3 linked regions of the Homo sapiens genome follow. The protein of the gene in region 1 interacts with the protein of each later gene in a pairwise test. Each region holds a gene or a part of one and is shown in the gene's direction. Other genes may lie near its edges.

Evidence for each region. The genes of interacting proteins can lie anywhere in the genome.
Region 2: the proteins of TRIM74 (region 1) and PRR35 interact in binary tests that used the Homo sapiens proteins (3 or more experiments, as listed by UniProt).
Region 3: the proteins of TRIM74 (region 1) and TTC23 interact in binary tests that used the Homo sapiens proteins (3 or more experiments, as listed by UniProt).

What each region holds. Positions count from the first base shown.
Region 1 is NC_000007.14:72,966,454-72,973,585, reverse strand, and holds the start of TRIM74 (tripartite motif-containing protein 74), read left to right. Parts: upstream 1-4,119; 5' UTR 4,120-4,301; intron 4,302-6,632; exon of another isoform or gene 6,633-6,753; intron 6,754-7,132.
Region 2 is NC_000016.10:556,384-563,416, forward strand, and holds the start of PRR35 (proline-rich protein 35), read left to right. Parts: upstream 1-4,010; 5' UTR 4,011-4,278; intron 4,279-4,513; exon of another isoform or gene 4,514-5,412; intron 5,413-6,186; exon of another isoform or gene 6,187-6,371; intron 6,372-6,872; 5' UTR 6,873-6,911; coding exon 6,912-7,033.
Region 3 is NC_000015.10:99,246,559-99,253,887, reverse strand, and holds the start of TTC23 (tetratricopeptide repeat protein 23), read left to right. Parts: upstream 1-4,306; 5' UTR 4,307-4,717; intron 4,718-5,577; exon of another isoform or gene 5,578-5,675; coding exon of another isoform or gene 5,676-5,700; intron 5,701-7,329. UniProt on the Homo sapiens protein: Participates positively in the ciliary Hedgehog (Hh) signaling.

The sequences.
Region 1 (7,132 bases):
TCAAATCTGTTGCCCAGGCTGGAATGCAGTGGCACGATCTTGGCTCACTGCAACCTCTGCCTCCTGGGTTCAAGCGATTCTCCCTGCCTCAGCCTCCCGAGTAGCTGGGGTTACAGGAATCCACCACCACGCCTGGCTAATTTTTGTATTTTTTAGTAGAGATGGGGTTTCACCATGTTGGCCAGGTTGGTCTTGAACTCCTGACCTCAGGTGATTTGCCCGCCTTGTCCTCCCAAAGTGCTGGAATTACAGGCGTGAGCCACCACGCCAGGCCCCTCTTTAGATCTGCTTTTTTTTTTTTTTTAAACAGGATCTTGCTCTGTTGCCCAGACTGGAGTGAAGTGGCACGACTATAGCCCACTGCAGCCTTGAACTCCGGGCTCAAGTGATCCTCCCGCTTCAGCCTCTCCAGTAGCTGAAACTACAGGCACACGCCACCACGCCCAGCTAATTTTTATTTTTATTTTGTAGAGATGGGGTTTCACTATGTTGCCCCGGCTGGTCTAAAATTCCTGGCCTCAAGCGATCCTCCTGCCTCCGCCTTCCGAAGTGCTGGGATTATAGGCTTGAGTCACCACCGTGCCCAGCATACATCTGCTTTCTGAATATTTGAGAGGCGGAAGGCACAAGGCGTGACAATTGATGGGATTTGGGATGTAAAGAGCAAGAGAGGACTCAAGCACAGTCGCCTCGAGGTTTCTAGCCCCGGCTGCTGTCACCAACCACTCTCAGGAAGGTAGGCAGAAGGTTACGCAGGAGAAACCGTAGGGGTAGTTCTGAGGCCCTGGAAGGGGTAGTTCTGAGGCCCCCGGGGGTGCGGAGCTGCAGGTCCAGGGAGGAGTGGTGAGGCTGGAGGAAGGTGAGGCTGGAGGAGGAGGTTCAGGAGGCTCTGAGGTAAAGATGGAGGCTGGGGCCTTGGGAGTCGAGGAGTTTACCCAAGACGAAGCATCTGTGTGGAAGAAAAGATAAGGCTGGGCGCAGTGGCTCACGCCTGTAAACCAAGCGCTTTGGGAGGCCGAGGTGGGCGGATCATCTGTGGTCAGGAGTTCGAGACCAGCCTGGTCAATATGGTGAAACCCCTTCTCTACTAAAAATACAAATATTAGCCGGGTACAGTGCACCTGTAATCCCAGCTACTCGGGAGGCTGAGGCACAAGGATCACTTGAACCCGAGAGGCAGAGGTTACAGTGAGCCGAGATCATGCCACTGCACTCCAGCCTGGGTGACAGAGCAAGACTCCATCTCCAAAAGAAAAAGAAACTATAAACATCATTGAAAGAAACTAAAGAAGACCTAAATAAATGGAAGGAAATCATGTTCATGGATTAAAAGACTTAATATTATTAAAATTTCATTACTTCAGAAGTGATCTACAGATTCAACACAATCCCTATCAAAATCCCAGCTGTGGCTGGGTGTGGCGGCTCACTTCTGTAATCCTGGCACTTCAAGAGCCAAGGTGGGAGGATTGCTTGAGCCGAGAAATTTGAGACCAGCCTGGCAACATGATCTCTACAAAAAATATAGAAATTAGCCAGGCGTTGTGGTGCCAGCCTGTAGTCCCAGCTACCCAGGAGGCTGAGGAAGGAGGATCGCTTGAGCCCAGGAGTTTGAGGCTGCAGTGGGCTATGATCACATCACTGCTCTCCGGCCTGGGCAACAGTGCAAGGTCATGTCTCAAAAAAAAAATCCCAGCTGGCTTTTTTTTTTTTTTTGAGATGGAGTCTTGCTCTGTTGCCCATGCTGGAGTGCAGTGGCGGACGATCAGCCTCAGGGCAGGCCATCTAGAAGAATTACCAAAAACACCAACCCATTTGTCTCTCTATAAAGTGCTGACATTTGTGCTCTGCAACGTACAGCTGAGAGAGCACAAAACTTGTCTGACTCAGCACAGTCTAGGAAGTCAAGCAGCTCAATCTTGAACAGGACAGTGGTGTTTGGGGGGATCAAGGGAGGGGAGCCCAGCGTTCCATAGGCGTAGTTCGGTTTGAACAGAAACCTGGCCAGCTCTCCTCTCTGCATGCTCAGAAGGCCCAGCTCCATGCCCCACAATGTAATATCTGTAAGAAGGGACAAAGAAGGTGGGTGAAGCTTGCTCAGTATCCTGCTTAATGCTATCAGTTTCTTCCCCCTCTAAGTCAGCAGTACTCTGGCCTCCATGTCTCCCTCACACAGTTCCCTCTTCCTGCAATGTCTTCCTCCTGAGCCTGTGCCCAGCTTCTAGTGATAGAAATTTTATTCAAACTTCTGGGCTCAGTTCAAATGCCCCCTCTTCCAGGAAGCCTTCCCTGAACTTCCCAGCTAGAATTAATCATGCCTTCATTAAGCACACCCACAACACTGCTTTCACCTCCCAGGCACTCATCCGATTCTACCAAGTGAGCTGAGTGCAGGTCAGTCTCCTCTACTACATTGTGAGGTCCTTAAGGGTGGAGATGTTCTAATCTTCTGAGTACAACCTCTCTTTTCACCATGTATTGTGGGAAGTAAGCATTCGTCGATTTTTACTTAATAAATGAACAAAGAAACATTCCCAGTGGTGAGTTAAGTCAGAGTGCAAAGATTATACCTTGCCCATTAAGCCATCTCCCAAATGCCTAGGTCTCAAGGGGAGAGAACATGGCTGTTTTACCAAAACCCAGCCTCAGCAAAGTCAATTCAAAGAACCTGCGCTCTGAGCAGTCTTCCCAGCCTGAGGCATGGTGCCTCATCTCGCTCCTAAACAATCCCTTCTTCTCCAGCTCCTACTCTGAATTTACCCTCTCCAAGTTTCATTAGCCGAGGAGTTTTCCTAAAGTAATTAGAATCGAAGGGTCTGTCCAAGTGTTCCAGGTATCCATACTATTTCACTAGAATAGAGGAAAGAATGTAAGGAAAATGGACCCAAAACACCCACGCCTCCATAATATCGAGTCTCTCATGATCACACAGAAACAATGCGATCAGATGAGCTTAAGCTGCCCGACACCACGAGGTACAGGAATAAATCTCTCTGCATTTTAGGAGCCTGCCCTTCGGCTCAGAGGTTCAAGAGCTTCATGGAAGCATCACGCAAAGGGGACATAGGGGTCCTTAGCTTTCCTCTTAAAAAAACTAATTCATGGCAGAAGCAGCGGCTCACGCTTGTAATCCCAGCTACTGGGGAGGCTGAGGTGGGAGGATCACTTGGGACCAGGAGTCTGAGACCAGCCTGGGCAACATAGAAAGTGCCCCATCTCTACAAAAATATTAAAAATTAGCCGGGCATGGTGGATTGCGCCTGTAAATCTCTTATTTGGGAGGCTGAGGCTGGAGAATCACTTGAGCCCAGGAAGCAGAGGCTGCAGTGAGCTATGTTCGCACCACTGCACTCCAGCCTGGGGAACTGAGCGAGACCCCGTTTCAAAAACAAAAATCCACTTCAAACAAAGCATTTCCAACCCCATTAAATGCTTTTTGAAAATGAGGCCTCTCTCTTCCCAACAGAGTGCGATGACATGGATCCTGCGGACAAACCGCCCCAGGGCGTACCTAGCACCGAAGCATCAGGCGCCACTAGGTCTCCAGCTCCTTCTCGGATGACGTCCTTCAGCACGCCCCGGTCCCCCGAGATGTCCAGCATCCTCTGACTTAACCGCTCGTACAGGGACTGATGGAGAATGAAAGCCAGGCCTCAGAGCCGCAGACCCACCCGGCCACCCCTCAGCGTCTACGCCCCCACGTCTGGGCCCTCACCTGGCCGGGGGCGTCGTCCCCTTCCAGGACTCCCTGGTTTAACGCGCTTCCCCCCATGTCCTAGCTGCCCTCCCTGTGGCGTGAGCCTTCGGCCTGGTGCGCCCCGCTGCCCTTCCTGGCTGTGACTCTGGTGGGGTTCCGAAGGCCCCTTTATGCCCGGCAGACCCCTACCGACGGCGGCATTCCATTCTGGGGCCACGAGGAGGCACTCATCGTTTCGTTCCAACCGCCGCCAACGGCCCTGGCCCTCGCGAGCTCTGGAACTACAGAGGTCGCACGGTGAGTTGCCAGGTGTGGCCCGTAATCGGAGCGCACAAAACATGATGGGACACGTAACGGGACCACACAGGGCACATTGGGCACTTGCAGGGGCGCGAGGTGGCGGCACGTAATGGGAGCGCGCTGAGCATGATGGGGCATGTGCGGGAGCGCCAGGCGGGGCATGTAACCAGAGCGTGCGGGGCATGATGGGGCACGGACATGGGGGGTTAGGTGGGGCACGTAATTGGAGCTCGCGGGGCAGGATGGGGCATCTAACTGGAGCGACAGAGAGCACGATGGGGCACTTACAGGGGCCGGAGGCTGGGTACGTAATGAGAGCGAGCGGGAAATGATGGGGCACCTAACGAGCACGCAGAGCATGATGGGGCACGGGTGCGAGGTGGGGCGCACAGTGGGAGCGCGTGGGGCATGATGGGACACATGGCGAGGCCGTCAGGGCACAGGGGAAGCACTTTTGGAACACGTGAGTGACAGGGCTGCCGCCCTTGAAGGAGCCCTCGGAGTGGCTGCGTGGTGGGGCACGTGGGGCAGGTTCAGGAAAAAGGATGCAGCATGTGATTGCAGGGCAACCTGGTGAGGACACGAGAGCCACCTGCCACCAGCAGGGTTCAGGGCTCCCAGCTGTGGGTTACTTCCACCTTCTTTCACTTTCCCTCTTCCATTGTATTCTAGAGAATTTAGGCCCAGACAAGACACTGATTGATTGATTGATTGATCGATTGACAGAGGCTCGCTCTGAGCCCAGGCTGGAGTTCAGTGATGGATCTCAGCTCACTGCAGCCGCCACCTCCTGGGCTCAAGAGATCCTCCTGCCTCGGCCTCCCAAGTAGCTGGGATTACAGACGTGCACCACCAGGCCCAGCTAATTTATTTTTTAGTTTTTAATTTGCTGGTAAGATGGTTTGTAGCTTTGTTGCCTAGGCTGGTCTTGAACTCCTGGCTTCAAGCGATCCTCCAGTCTTGACCTCCCAAAGTGCTGGGATTATAGGCGTAGGCTACAGCCAACTTTCAATACTGCCCCATTGGGGGTTACGTTTCCAACACATGAAATTAGGAGGATACATTCAAACCACAGCAGTATATTATGACCATAATATTCATTAACTGTGTAACAGGCTGGGCGCGGTGGCTCACACCTGTAATCCCAGCACTTTGGGAGACCAGAGTGGGTAGATCACTCGAGGTCAGGAGTTTGAGACCAGCCTGGCCCACATGATGAAACCGCCTCTCTACTAAAAATACAAAAAATTAGCCGGTGTGGTGGCAGGCGCCTGTAACCTCAGCTACTTGGGAGGCTGAGGCAGGAGAATCACTTGAATCCGGGAGGTGGAGGTGGCAGTGAGCCTGATTGCACCACTGCACTCCAGCCTGGGCAACAAGAGCAAAACTCTGTCTCAATAAACAAACAAACAAACAAAACCTGTATAACAGAGTGTCATTGAATTTCTAAACGTTGAAAGACTTCACATTAAAAAAAAACTCACAATTTAATATTATTGAGTGAAAGAAACCAGACACAAAAGGGTACATTCTATATGATGCTGTTTATGTGACATTCAAAAACAGGCCACATGACAACATGGTAATAAGGACAGTGGCTGTCCTTGTTAGGAGTTATGACTGGAAGGAGGCAGGAGGGAGCTTTCTGGAAACACTGTACATCTTGCTCTTGAGAGTGCACGTATATACATCAAGTGTTTATCAAGCTGTGTGGTTAAGATTTGCACACTTGTATATGTTATACCTCGATTTAAAAAATCTAAATAAGTAAATAAAGATACCTTCAAATCTTTAAAAAAAAAAAAAAAAAGAGGCCAGGTTCGGCGGCTCACACCTGTAATCCCAGCACTTTGGGAGGCTGAGGTAGGAGGATTGCTTGAGGCCAGGAGTTCAAAACCAGCCCAGGCAACAAAGTGAGACCCCTGTCTCTACTAAAGTAAATAAAACAATAAAATAAAAAAAAAAATTCGAGAGATCGAACCATCATCTGCCAGTTTGTATTAGAAAAAAAGAGAGAGAGAAGGAAGACTGCGTGCAATAAGGCTCATGCCTGTAATCCCAGCACTTTGGGAGGCCAAGGTGGGAGGATTGCTTGAGCCCAGAAGTTGAAGACCAGCCTGGGCAACAAAGCAAGACCCGGTATCTACAAAAAAAATTTTAAAAATTAGCTTGGCATGGTGGCACGTGCCTGTAGTCCCAGCTACTCAGGCAGCTAAGGTAGGAGGATGGCTTGAGCCTAGGAGTTGGAGGCTGCAGTGAGCTGTGACCACGCCACTGCACTCCAGCCTGGGCAACAGAGCAAGACACTGTCTTCCCCTGCCCCCCAGCCCCCCACCCCCCCCAAAAAAGGATATAAGAGCAAGAGATTGAGATTCAGAAAGAACTGTTTCCCAGCACCTGTCTGCTCCTGTCGGGGTCGTGAGGTGTGGACAGTGTGCCTAGTCCCTCTGTTTCTGCCCCTCCTCCACAGTGGCCAAGGCCAGCACTTGAATGTTATCAGAGCAGGCCCAACAAAGGCTGCCTCCCCAGTCCTGTGATGTAACCCAGTTTCCACCTGATTCTGGTGACCTTGGGGACACAGGGGTGTTGCTGGGGAAGGGGAGGAGAGAAGGGGCAGAGACCAGGCAGTGGTGCAGGCGTCCAGCTGCACTTCCCACTTCTGACTCTGTGCCTGCTGTTCCCTGCTGGGAAGAAGAAAAGCCAGTGATGCTGGCTTGAGGCCATAGTGGGAGGCCCAGTGGATCCTGAGAAGCTAGGTATTCCAATGTCGGGCTCTCGCTGGGGGCTTCTGGTGCTTCTTCTGTCTCACTGACAAGCTTTCATAGGGGAGCAGGTGGGAGATCAGGGTAGAGGCCTTGTAGGTTCCAGGCTCTCTAGAATTACCTGGGAGTGTCACCTATAAGTGTAGAGTTCTGGGTCTCACTGGAGACCCCCTGAAGCAGATCCTTTGAAGGTGGGCCTCTAGAATCTCTATTACACCTATGCTTTCAACAGTTTCCTGAAAGTTTGGGAACTGATCTAGAAGGTGGGGAGCTTGCCTAGGTTTTGCTGTTCAGTTCTAGGTCCGGATGCATGCTGGGGCTGGACCTTGCATTATTAGTGTCACTGCAAATGACCCTGCAGATGGCCCCTTTC
Region 2 (7,033 bases), on another chromosome or scaffold:
AGGTTTTGGGGGGTGGGAGGCCAAGGCCCAGGACCCGGATCTACCCCAACAGTGGCCAGCCCTGGTGCTGAGGGCTATGGGGGGGCTGGACATGGGGCCCCACCACCCCACCTGCCAGTTGGAGGCCCCGCCACCCCGCCCGCCAGCCCGCCTGCCACTCAGGCGGGGAAAATCATCTGTGACAGGCCCAGGAAGGCCAGCCCCGGGGGCCGCAGAGAGACACACACAGCTCCTCTTCCCAACATATGGCTGCTGTCGGCCCCGGGCGCTGCTGGCCAGTGCCAGGCTCGGGAGCCGGTGGGGGCTCGAGCAGCCTCAGCCTCCCGTCCCACCCGCCTGGCTGGCTGCCCCCTCTGTCAGTCTACATCCCAGCCTCCTGGGACGGGGCTCACTCCCACCACAGCAGCTCAGCCCTCCAAGGAGCGTCCTGTACCCTCCTCCGTCCCAGAGGCTCAGGACACACAGAGGGTCAGCCCCGCACCCGGCCCAGGGTGGCCAGTGACCCGGCACGTCTATGAGAGTGTAGTGCATGGGGAAGGGCCCAGCTGGGGTCTTCCAGAGCCGGGAGGCGGGTGGGGAGGGGACTCTCTGGTGTGGACTCTGGGATGGTCAGGGCTGCTGGGGAGGACTATCCCTGGTAGTGCTCGAGCCGGAAGACTCCTGGAGCCCCCATTCAGGCGCCTCCTAACAGGGCCCCCGTTCCCTCAGGTGGATGGACCCAGGGACCCCAGAGCTCCGCAGGCTCTTCGTGTGCCCCCCACACCCTTGGGCCGTTGTCCTGGGCGCTCTGGCCCACTCGGTTGCCCAGCCCCCTCCGTTCTCCCCTGGCACCCCCACTGTGTACCCGCCCATCAAGGCCAGCAGCCTCAGGCTGGTGCCGAGGGCCCTCACGTGTATCCATGACCCCTTCCGCCAAGGCTGGGCTGCCCCTCTCAACCAGGGATCCTCAAGTGGGCAGCAAGGAGGAAGCCCCCAGGAGGCCTATGCTCTGTAGACCTGGGGTTCTTGAAGTGCTCAGGGTGGCCACAGGCCCTGGGGTCCGTTATTGAAAGGACAGACATCAGCTGTGTCCGGACACCTTGCAAGGTACTGACCCCACGTGGGGGCTCCAACCTGCTGCCGCTGGATAGATTGCCCCGGTCTCAGGACCTGCGTGGGGCCTCCAGCCTGGCTGCAGCCCTGACACTGCCCTCACTGTGTGGGTGCAGGCACCCCGGCCCCTGCACCTGTCCTGACACTGGCTGTGTGTCGACACTGAGGGGATGAGACAGGCCTGCCCCCGGGCACTGGCCATGCCGAGCGCTGCCTCCGCTGCCTTCTCTGAGCCCAGCTCTCCGTCCTGCCCGTGAGCCCCCGGCACAGAGTCCCATTGTTAATGGAGGTGACAGGCGGGCAGCCGTGGGCAGACCGGGCAGAAGAGGTTAATGGCCAAAAATGAGCTTCTGGCTGGAGGCAGAAGGAGGGGCCATGGGGTCCCCATCCCACCCTGCACTGGGACTGGCTAAGGAGACATCAGGGCACCCACTAGGACCAGAGCAGAAGTGCCCGGACACTGAGCACCCCACTGCCCATTCTGCAGATGGGGGCCATGGGCCAGAAAGTTGGGGGGGTGGGGGCACAGGTGCCAAAACAGAGTCCCAGTCACTGCCTCAGGAAGCAGAAGCCACCTCTCCAAACCCAAAGTCAGCCCAGTGTGCAAGAGCTGGGACCAAGCAGGTGGGTCATGGCCACAGTGAGGAAGCTGACGTGCCCAGGGGGCCCTGTGGTTGCGGGGTGCTGGCACTGATATCCCGGCCTCGCCTGGCTGTTTGTGATGGGAACAGTCATCTGGGCACCCAGTGTACTGGCCTCACATGCTCCTCACCCCCCACCTCGTGCACGGCTGAATCTCAGGACCCCCACCAGCAGGTGCAGGGCCCCCTCATCCTCCCTGCCAGAGTCCTTCCGGGAGGCCAGAAACACGTCCAAGTTGTGCCCCGGGGCCCCTCTCGAGGCTGCCCCTCTTCTCTTCTCATGCAAACTTCTGCAAAGGCCCATCGGTGGTGAGGGGTGGAGGTGCTCCTTCAGCCTGCTCAGCGCTAGACACGGCCTTGTTCCCCCTCTGGGGCTCCTTGGTCCCCTGAGCTTCACTGGGCTTTATTTCCTGTATGCTGACATCTAGGTGCTCCAAGACCAGGCCTCCCTGCTCCCTACTTTCCTCCCCTGGACAATGGCCAGAGCCTCCAGCCAGTTGGTCTCCTGTGCTGTCAGCTGTGGCCTCTTCCAGACCTTCAAAGGGGTCAGTCTCGGGCTGGCCACTGAGGGACTACTGGTGTCAGGGTGACCTTGGACCCTAGTCTCCCGGGGCAGTGCTCAGCTGAACACGTCCAGAGTAGAGTCTATGTACAGAAGCAGCCGGCCTCCTGGCCCCCGCTCTCCACGGGGCTGCTGGCGTGACGGCAGCCCAAGCTGTCTCCCGGCCCGGAGCTGCCTGCACGGTCAGCTGGTCAGCTGGGCCAGGCCAGGTGGGCAGAGAGAAGGCTGGCATGCTCTGCCATCCACAGCACCCCTCCCAGTCCCCTGCCCCGCCCCAGGGACTTCCCTCAGACGGGCGTGTGCGGCTGTGTCAGGGAAGGTGGCATGGAGGCAGGAGGGAGACAGAGCCCCACGCCCACCCCAGAACCAGGGGCTGTTCCTCATGGACCCTGGGTGTGCTCTACCAGGGGGCTCTGCCAGCAGCCGGACCGGGGCCACGGAGATGCTGCTGAGCTCTCTTCTCTGCCCCATTCGAGGGGTGACACCCAGAAGCCCCGTGGGGTCCTCCCTTCTTCCCCAAGGCACCCCTGACCCCGACCTGAGCTGGGGACAGCCCGGGAGCCTGCGGCTGAGCCTGCAGAGAGCCCCAGGTCCTGGGGAGCTATGTGGGCCGGGCTCCCTGTGCTGTTTCAGAGTCAGCAGGGAGTAGCACACTCCCCTCTGGCTGGAGACCCCGAGACGCCCGCCTACCGCAAGTGTCGGGTTTAGGACGTCTCCCCTGAGCGAAGTCAGGGGCTCTGCCCCAGCCATGCCTGTGTCCGGGAGGGAGCAGGCCGGTCAGGCGAACCTCCCCTAGGCCCCAGCTGAGCAGTGGGGCTCCAGGCCTTTACGTTCTGGCAGCTCAGGGAGCTGCTTGGAACTTGGTGCAGCCCGGGAGGTGGGGCTGGGAGCAGCCCTGGCCCTGCTTCTCTCCTCCACCGCCCCAGGTCCTCTCAGGAGGGGACTCCCGTGGGGAGGGGGTCTTTCAAACAGCAGGGAAGTGCGTGGCCTCGTGGGGCAGCGCTGAGGCACCTCCCACAGGAGCCGGGAGTGAGGGCTGGAGGGGTCCGCATCCAGGAAGGGGGAGGGTGCTGGAGACCAGCCCCAGGTGGAGGCGGTCAGCCGGCAGGGCGGGGTGCGAGGGGCCGGTCCGGGCAGCCTCCGGTTTAGAGGAAAAGAGAACGGAGGGCAGGGCTCGCCCAGGGAGGGCAAGGAAGGGAGCCCGGCTCCGCTGGCTCAGTCCGCGGCACCCCTGTCCCCCAGGACAGCCCCCAGGGGCCCTGGCTCGGGTGGGCCGGCGGCTGTCAGGGGCCAGAGCCCTGATGGATAAGCGCTGACGGCCCCTCTCCCGCGCCCCGCGCCGCTGACACCCATCACGCCGCGGCGGGGACCCGGGAGACCTGGCGGCCTCTGTGCACCCCCGCGGCAGCCTGCGGGCAACGGGGGCGGGAGGCGCCGGGCGCCCCTGACTCGGCCGCACACCTGCGCCGCAGTCCGCTCTCCGTCCGCTGCCTCCCGGGTTCCCGGCCGCTCCACCGCGCGCCCCGAGAGCTGAGCCGGTCCCGGCGCACGAGGCCGGTGAGTGCGCGCCAGGGGGCGGCGGGGGGCGCGCGGGCGGCGGGGGCGCGGGGTTCGGGCCGGGGGCTGCTCCTTCCCTCCCGCCGCGAGCGCGGTCGGAGGTCGCAGCGCCCCCCGGAGCCCGGAGCCCAGGCGCACGCGCGCCCGCCTCTGCCGCCAACTTCGGGAGGTGCGAGCGGCGTCGGGGGGACGCGGGCGGCGGCGGAGGCTGCGGGAGTCGCTGCCGCTCGAGGGACCGCGGACCCGGGAGGTCCGGCTCCCGGCGCCGGGCCTCAGTTTCCCCCACGGGAGCCGCATCCCACCCCCAGAGCCCCAGCGCGTCCGCGGGGTCCGAGTCGCGGCCGGCGCGGGGCGGGGAGGGGCGGGAAGTTTGCGCCCTACACGCGGCCTCGCAGACTTGGCGGCTCCGCTCCCGGCCGGGCGCAGGTAGGAGCGGCGGGAGCCGCGGGGGCGGCCAGTTGGGCGTCGCGGGGCCGGCTGGACGCGGGGCGCGGGGGCAGCGGGTGGCCAGGCGTGTGGGGGGCGCGGGGGGCGGCCGGGTCCCCCCCACCCTCTTCTCGAAGTCCAGGAGCAGCGCGGGGGGAGGGAGGGCCGCCCTCAGGGGCCAGGCGGGGAGGGCAGGGGCCGGGTCTGGGGTCTGGGGCAGACGCCTGACCTCGCGCTCGCCGCACCCGCCTGTGTGGGGCGCCCTGCGTTCCCGGGGGGGGGGGCAGCAGGATCTGCGGGTGGCCGATCAGGGTCCCCGGCTGCTGGGTGCCCCCTCCTGCCCTGTGGGGGTGCCTGTGCCCCCCGTGCCACCGGTTCTCCCCCAGCTCTCCCCCAAACAGGGACAGGTGAGTGGGGCCGGGTGTCGGGGCCTGGCACAGGGCTGCTGGCTGCCCCGGGAGCGATTGCCGGGTCCGGCTGGGACGCGCGTGTGAGTGCGTATGCGTTTGTGTGTGCGTGTGGCTGCTGTCCAGGGGTGTCTTTTGCTCTGTGTACACACACCAGGTGGGTGCCAGCTATCCTCCGGGTCCCCAAGGGGTCAGCAGCTGCTGAGACAGCCCCTTGGACAAGCCCCTGACCCGGGAGCCCCCGGTCCCTGCTGGGAGGCGGGATGGGTTGTGGCATCGGCTGGCACAGCTGTGTGGCTCCCAGGGCTGGGTGATCGATGGCCCGGCACAGCCGCCTCTGTCGCCGGAGCGCCCACACCCATTTGTCATCCACATGGGTGGGGGGGGCGGCGGGCAGGGAGAAGGGGCCGCCTCTGCACCCACCACCCAGTCCAGGCCGGGTCTGCAGCCCCTCGGGGAGCCCCAGGACCTCTCCTGGCCCAGCCCCTGCCTCCCGACCGCCACCCTGTCTCAGCCACAGACCAGCTGGTCAGCCTCTGCCTGCCCCTGCAGCCCGTGACTGCCCTGCAGGGCCCCAAGCCTTTGGACGAGTGGACTTCTCCAGCCCTGTTGGTCGTCCCCCCAACGGCACCAACACAGTGTTTTGGGGGCAGCAGACAGCAGTGCCCCAGCCCTACCCTGCTCAACCCACTGGCCATGCATGACCACGGGTGCGACCCCCAGCCAGGTCTGCGTGTGTCCTGGGGAGTCGGTGTGTAGGGCCTGTGTGAGCATGTGAGTGCCGTGTTGGAGTGGTTTGGAAAGCCCCCCCACACCTGGATGGGTGGTGAGTGTGTTATCACGGACAAGCAGCCGTGTTCACCGTGATGGAGTGTGAGGTGTGTGCAGCCAGGGCCCCGCACTTGGTGGCAGACTCCGTTCTGAGCTTAGGTGGCACAGAGGTGGCTTCTCCGGGCACTGGGTGAGGGCTCTGTGTGAGCCTGTGGGCTGTGTACACACACCCAAAGCCCGTGTGCGCAGGCGTGCTGTGCACCCCACACAGGCGCGTGCTGGGGCGGTGGACAGCCCAGGTGGCGGCCCAGATGGAGTGTGGCGCGCATACCAGCGCCGTGTGGGGCGTGGGGAGGAGCGGGTCTTGGCTGAGTGTGGCCGCTGCAGGCTCGGCCGCTGACCTGCCCGAAGCCACCCAGATGGAGCTGGGCTGAGCAGGTGGCTGAGCCGTGGGGCCATGCTGGGACGTCCACTCCCCACAGCCTGGCCTGGCCCCACATGAGACTGACCCCCTAAGAGACCCCCAGTGCCCACCTGACGCCCTGCTAGAGCAGGCTCTGTGCCGCCTTTAGACACACACGCATACACACGCACTCACACATGCATGCATGCACACATGCACACACAATGCACACACGTGCACATGAACACAAGCATGCACAGAGGCACATGCACACACAGGCGCACACACGTGTGCACACACACGCACATGCACGCACACACACGTGCATGCACACGCACACATGCACACACACAGACACACACAGGCACACACACACACACGCAGCATCATCCCACACAGACCCTTCCGTTGGTGTCTCATCTCAGTGCCTTTTCCTAGGCTTTGAACAGGCAGATTGGCAGGGGCCAGGGTTGCTGGAGGGAATGAGACCAGGAGGCTGACGTCCACCCGAAGTGAGCTCTGGTCACGCTGATTCTTTTAGCCACTCACATGCTGTGGGGAGATGGGTGTGGGCTGAACTATCCTAGAAATTGGCCAGCAAGTCGGCCTGGCCTCAGGGGTGGGGATGTGTGTAGGGTCAACCGATAAAATAAAGGACGCCTAGTTAAAATCGAATTTCCGATAAACAATGAACACCTTTCTAGTGTGCCTTTCCAATATTGCCTAGGCTACACTTAACACTCAGAAATGACGTGCTGCTGATCGGCGTCAGATGCAGCTCGCTGTCCTGGACTTTTTTTTTTTTTTTTGGTGCCCTGGACTTTGCTGCCACCCTGGAAGTGCACGTGGGGAGGAGCCGAAGGATGGGGCTCGGGGGGCACGTTGCAGGGCAGAGGCGGCGGGGTGGGGGGAGCACCCAGGCTCCAGTCCCTGGAGCCTGGGGAGCCATGGATGGAGAGGAGTGGGGAGTTAGTCAGAGGCAGGCTTGGCACTGACTGTGGCCCCATCTACAGGTGGCCATGGTGCCCGGCCCTGCCTCATAGCAGGCTGCCATGTCGCGGGAGGCGGGCTCATGCCGCGTGGGCACAGGGGCGAGGGCGCGGTCTCGGAAGCCCAAGAAGCCACACTACATCCCGCGGCCCTGGGGCAAACCCTACAACTACAAATGCTTCCA
Region 3 (7,329 bases), on another chromosome or scaffold:
ACCTCCAATCTATCACAAGGCTAGTGGCCTCTATCTCCCAAATACATCTCAAATCCATCCAAATCTCTCCATCTGCCAAAACCACAAGCCACAGTCATCTCCTGCCTGGCCAACAGTATTACCAGTCTCCCTGTGTCCACTCTAGTCACTTCCAACACATTAATCCCAGCAATGGGCCTTTAAAAATGTACATCCAATTACATCTCACTCTTTTCGGTACACATCTTACTAAATAAACCCTTCAGAAACTTCTTACTTAGAAAATCAACTCATACTAGGCCTTGAGGGTGCCTCACCATCTGCCCCCACCCACTTCTCCAGCAACTCTGCTTGGCTTCTCACCAAGCTTCTGGGCTTTTCCAATCCTCAAAGCTACTAAACCCCTAACAGCACTTGCTGGTCTCCTCTTAGCCTAGAAAGCAATGTCCCATCATTCTCCAGATTTCAACATAAAAATTACTTCCTGAGACCGGGCGCAGTGGCTCACGCCTGTAATCCTAGCACTTTGGGAGGCCGAGGAGGGTGGATCACCTGAGGTGAGGAGTTCGAGACCAGCCTGGCCAACTTGGCGAAACCCCATCTCTACTAAAAATACAAAAATTAGCTGGGTTTGGTGGCGGGCGCCTGTAATCCCAGCTACTCGGGAGACTGAGGCAGGAGAATCTCTTGAAACCGGGAGGCGGAGCTTGCAGTAAACCGAGATCGCACCACTGCACTCCAACCTGAGCGACAGAGCGAGACTCAGTCTTAAAAAAAAAAAAATCACTTCCCTATCCCAAAGTAATTCCCCTGGTGTTCTTTCAGAGGAACTTGGCTGTTTGTTTTTTCTTCGTAGGACTCCTCACAATTTGTCACTTAAATATTTATCGTTGCATCTGTCTATTGTCAATAAAGCCAAAAAGCCTGTAAATAAACCCTTCCGAAACTTATTTAGAAATCCTGAGGGCAGGGACTGCGTTGTTTTCTTCACGCTTGCATACCTGCATCTAGCACAGTAACTAAAAGTAACCCTTCCTAAAACCTAGGTGATGGGTTGACAGGTGCAGCAAATCACCATGGCACACGTTTACCTATGTAACAAACCGGCATATTCTGCACATGTATCCAGGGACTTAAAATTTTAAAGTAGGCCTTCTAATATCTGATGACATGTGGAAGAACATTGCAAGGTTGATTTTTCATCCAACTATGTCAAGACCACGGATAGAGCCTATAAGCTTGCTACATGCCACAAGGATGTCTAATCTTTACAACCATGCACTGCAATAGACATTATGTAGCCCGTTTTGTAGAGGAGGAAACTGAGTTTCTCAGAGGGTAACATGCCATAGTTCCATCGCAGGTGGACTGACTACAAAGCGTGTGCACCGCCGCCCTATAATGCAAAACCACACTCACTGAAGGAAGATTCAATAAGACAGTCCCTGTAACCTGACGGCTTTCCTTCTGAATGTTCTGGCTGGGATTGGCTGCCTCAAAAACACCATTACACTCTGTTAAAATTGCTACAAAGGCTGTTTGGGAGATAAAATCTAAACAAATGAAATCCTAAAACTGCCAATAATAGCAATAAAGCATCAACAATGCTCACAGTTTTGCAGTATGCATTCACGGGCCATACACAGCCTTTAACAAGGTAATTTTCTTACCCCATTTCACTTGACTACATCTTACCTAGTTAAGCAAACTACCTCTTGTATAGTTATACTACCTCTTATGTAGTTAAGGCAAATAGTATTACTTAATATCAGCTGTATACAGCTGCACTTACACACGAGCTTTCTGACAGGTGAACACCAATCTATCTTATTATTAAAAACAAAACAAAAAAATCAAAAACCTCTCAACAAAATTCCACACATATTAAGGAGTATTTTGAAAGGAAGGAGTCCCTTATACTGACCTCCCCGTACTCAATTTAGTAGAATACGCATTCCAATTTCCTAACGCTGGAGATTAGAGAACTATAAGCTACATATTAAAAGCATTTGTAAAAGGCTATTTTCTCAGCTGTGGTAACAAACACTGGCAGAGTCTTAGGCAAAACACACGCCGTTTCGCCCGAGTTAGCCAGCCACTGAGATCGTTACAGTTGGGAAGCAGCGAGCCCAGCAGCAGGGATTTCACGGACCCGGTATCAGGGTTCTCGGGTCCCAGGGGCCGCGGGCCGCAGAGTGGGAGGAGGACCCGGCAGCTGTGGCCACCCGAGGCCCGGACGGCTCCGCTGTCCCACTCGCCGCGACCCGGACGCTTTGGCAGGACCACGTCTGGGGCGTCCCCGCCGGGGGGCCGGGTCAGAGAGCCTCGCCACTTGAATCACCCGACGAGGCGGACAGCTCTACTCACCTCAGCGCCAGCAGAGCCAGCGCTCCGGAGCGCAAGCGGCGCTGGAAGCCAAGCGGGGGACGGCGGGCGGGGCGGGGCAGGGAGCCAGGCGAGGGCGGGGCGGAGCGCCGGGCGTCGGGGGCGGGGCTCCGGGGGTGGAGCGGAACCCGCGCCAGAGGGAGCTGGGGAAGAGGGAGCGGGAGAGGAGCACGGAACCTCGCGATAATCCCCTGTGTTCTCGCGCTTTCACGATAGGCGCGGGAAAATGCTCGTTTGCCAAGCGATCTGTGTATTGGCCGAGAGCGCTACTTCCTCTATGCTGGCCCCGCCCGCGGCTCTACTCTTGCTTCCGGCTCCGGCGTGGGGTTTGATGTCGACGGAGTGGCTTTTGCTTAGCGTCTTGAAGGGGTAATTTAGTCGGCTCCAACTTCGGGAACCGCCAGTTACTGACCTGTTCCTTCATTCATACATTCATTCAGTCACTCGGCTTCTCATTCAGAGCACACGTTGAGGGATTACAACAATGATCCCACGTTGAGCGTTCGTTCTAAGAGCTGTTTATAGATTATCTCGTTGAACCCTTGACAGCAATCCCATGACACAGGGACTAACAGCGCCAGTCTGACCGTTGAAAAACAGGCCAGTGGGTTTATGTAACGAAGCCAACGTTATTTAGCAAGTAGTGAGTCTAAGCACCGGATTTAAGGGGTCACTACGAACTGGTAGATAACAAAGATGAGGAGGACGTAACCTAGTCTCTGCCCTTCAAACACCCAAGGTTTATTTTGAGTAAAGATTGCTAAAAAGGTCAGGAACAATTTAGAGAGTTAAATACAATGACACTTCCTAGCCTGACTGAGTAGGCCGTCAATATGTATTTCTTCAAGACGAAAATTATTATGTCAGCGAAATAGCATGAAAGAGGGCTTTATGCTGTTAAAAATACTTGGAAGCATAGTTCGGAAACATTTTTAAAAGACACTTTTTAAAGTGTCTCATTAATATGACAAATTTCCTTCTGAAATGAAGATTTTAAAGTATAATCCTCTACTACAACCGCTGATATTTTTTGTTCTGTGGAAAGCCTGTCTATGAGTTTGCGAGGCTCCTTGTCAAGGAACTTTAACTTTATAATGAAGTAGTTTTTACAGTTGCTGACTTAATTATTCATAGAGACGAATAACCTAGAAAGCAGAGTTATATTAAATAAAAAACATTGGTTTTAAAACAAGGTATGAGTTATAATAAAAATTATCAGTTATCTATTAAATCTGGTCTTCAAGAGCTATTCAGGTATACAGCATGGTTGGTATATGTCATGTATTTCTAAGATAGTTTCGGAATACCTAAGAATTCGTGGCACTCAGAAATTTTTTGCTGGTCTTAAAATGAGGAAATCCACATTTTGTGTAAAAACAAAGATACGGTGTTTAATGGTCAGCCCAAATAATAAGACTTGCTGCTAATATATGAAGAGTTACACCCCCCAAAAAAGAAAAAAGATTAACAGTAGAACAGTTTTTTGAAAACAATGTTAGCCTCTTAGTTTTCATTTCTTTTTTTTAATGGGGAATACTGTTTTTCAGTGATTAATATCTGATATTTGATCATGAAAAATGAATCATGTTAAAATAACCTTCACCTCCTCCCCACATTGACACAAAAGTTACCAAGTGATTATATTTGATAATACTTTATGACCCCACTCTTGAAGTTCTCACAATTTGTAGAGAATCAATTCGCACGTTTTGTCTCTCTTAAAGGGGAAAAAAATCCTCTAAGCTGGTGATTTCACGTTCTTTGACAAACTTCAATATCAACAGGCAACGATACCACTTTAAGAAAATTCCAAGGAAAAGACCTCATTTTAAAATTCCCACCTCTGGCTCCCAAAGATTGGTTTGCAAACTTCGACAAAATACTCTTCTCCACTCGCTATTGGTGAGTGCTCTATCATTCATTCTTTTGCCTGGAGTTTTGTGAGGTACCCGCTTGCTTTATGGGAAAAGGCTGCTCCGGAACTGCCCTACTTTAGACTTTTTCATGGTTATCAATCTGTACAAAGAATCACCAAACTGATAAAGCAGGAACCAGAGGGCAAATCACGCTGCCAAGACAACTGTGTAATTCGCTCGAAAAAGAAACGGTGAGCCTCTCCAGCAGACTGGGTAAACTGGCAAGGGATTTTACGACATAGTTGGAGATTGGAGAGTTACAGAAACTTTTCCGGTTTTTTACAAGTTTTAAAGGAGTGATTGAGTGTCAAAGGAAAAGCAGAGAAAATACAGGCACAATTTAAAGACAGCAGGAAGAAGAGTGTTCAGAGAGCATTTTTCTCTTTAGGGTGAAGTTTGAAAGCATCATGCCCAGATTATCAGTGGATTTTTGAAAGGTAAAGGAGGCAAGATAATAAGATTAACTATAGATCATTTTCTACTTTAAGAAACTGTGCTTCGTTATTGTTGCTTAAGTGTGGATTTAGAAGGACATTTAGTAATATTGTAATTTTTATATGGATATTTTTGTTTATATATTGTCATACCTGGCATAATAGATAATATATCTATTAAAAGATATAGGAGAAAATAGAGTTGCTTGAACCCAAATTTTGTGTATATTTGTGGATTAGGGATTCCAGGGACAGATCTGCTAATGGCTGAACAAAACATACTACAGATACCTGAAGCAGAATCAGCATGTAAGGGTAAATTCTCAAAAAAATCCAGCAATCATATTTCAAAAATGACATTTTTAATTAAAACAAATACAAAAGAATTTATCAAGGAAACGTTGATGAACATGACTATTTCTTAAGTTGCCTGTGTTAATCCATATAGGGGAATATAAAGTAATAAAATCCAGCCCCTCAAGAGCAGGGACAAATGAGGCTCAGAACATTTAAACTAAAACTTCTGAACAGTTCTTAATGCCCGGATGACTGTTGTAGAGCACAGGTGCTTCAGGAGCTCAGCTCAATGTGAGATGAATTATTCAGAGAAGGCTTCACAGTATGGGTAAGACTCAATTTGGGCCTGAGCAATGGGCAGAATTTCAGAGAGAAAAATAAGGGAAGTGGCATCCCTACTAGTGAGTGAGTTGTTAGCAAATACATGCAGCCTGAGGAAGAGTTGGTTCTGACTGCGGCAGAAGGTTCATTTGGAAACTTTGGTTACAAATTTTAAAAAGCAGCATGAGAAATATAAAGAGCCGGAATTCCCAAAATCAGGGGTTTGGGTCCTGTGTTTGGAACAGGAGGCACCCCTTATGAAAGTAATATTTGAAGACAATAAAACTGACAGTGGAATTTAAGATGGCTAGACCAGAGCAGAGACCAGAAGCTAAGGGGCCCCATGCTGTGTAAATACTGGCACACAGGTTAGTAACCATGCTTCTTACCCGAATACATTTACCTTATCATTGTTGAATAATATAAATTTTGATGCACTTCTTTGTAGTCTTCGAAAGCATTGAGTTTACTTCTTTAAGATTTTTGGGGACCGCTGCCACACTGTCTTGGGGAGTCATGGTTGCCCCGTCTTTATAAAAGTCTTGTCATAATATGTATAAAAACCAGAATTACACATAAAACTGCGTTGTGGTTTCATAGCTATTTTTAACAGCTTTAATGAAGTATAATTTATATATTATAAAGTTCATTTGTCTTAAGGATATAACTCAATGATTGTTTTAGAAAATCACAACCATCACCACATTCCAATTTTAGAAAATTTTCATCATCCTAGAAAATTTAGAAAATTTTCATCATCCTAGAAAATTTAGAAAATTTTCATCATCCTAGAAAATTTAGAAAATTTTCATCATCCTAAAAAAATACTTTGTGCCCATTTGCAGGCAAGTCCTGGTTTCCTATCCCCAGCCCCAATCACTAAAAAACTTTCTGTCTATAAATTTACCTTTTCTGGGCATGTAAGTGGAATTACACATTATGCGATCCTTTGCATCTAGTTTCTTTTACTTAGCATAATGTTTTTGAGGTTCATCCATGTTGTAGTATGTCTCATTACTTCATTCCTTTTTATTGCTAAGTAATAATCCACATTTTATTTAACAGTACCAATTAACAGACATTTGGATTTCTTCTAGTATTTAAATATAGTGTTTAATTGTACTAATTGTAATTGTATTACAGTAAATACAGTACAGTATTTAGCATTATGAATAATGCTGCTATGAAGATGGGTACAAGTTTTTGTATGAACGTGTGTTTTCAGTTTTCTTGGGTGTATATCTACGAGTGGAATTACTGTCATATGGTAACTCTGGGTGTAACTTTTCAAGGTGTTGCACAACTGCTTTCCAAGGTGAATTTCCCATTTTACATTTCCACCAGAGTGTATGAGGGTTCCAATTTGTCCACATCCTCACCAACACTCCTTATGATCTGTCTTATTCATTGTAGTCATTCAGCTGGATTTTAAGTGGTATCTTATTACAGCTTTCATTTGCATTTTCCTGATGACTGACGATATGAAGCATCTTTTCATGTGCTTGTTGACTATCCATATATCTTCTTTTGTAAAATGTCTTTCAAATATTTTGCCTATTTTTTTAATTGAGTTGTCATCTTGTTACTGATTGTTTTTTGGTTTTTTTGGTTTTTGTTTGTTTGTTTGTTTGTTTGAGACTGGGTCTCGCTTTGTCGCTCAGGCTGGAGTGCAGAGTGCCACGATCTCGGCCCACTGCAATGTCCACCTTCCGGGTTCAAGCAATTCTTCTGCCTCAGCCTCCCGAGTAGCTAGGATTACAGGTGCCCACGACCACGCCCAGCTAATTTTTTGTATTTTTAGTAGAGACGGGGCTTCACCATGTTGGCCAGGCAGGTCTCGAACTCCTGAACTCGTGATCCACCTGCCTTGGCCTCCCAAAGTGCTGGGATTACAGGCATGAGCCATCGCGCCAGCCCATGTTAATAAATTTTTTTTTTTTTGACACGGAGTGTCACTCTGTCACCCGGGCTGGAGTACAGTGGCTCGATCTCAGCTC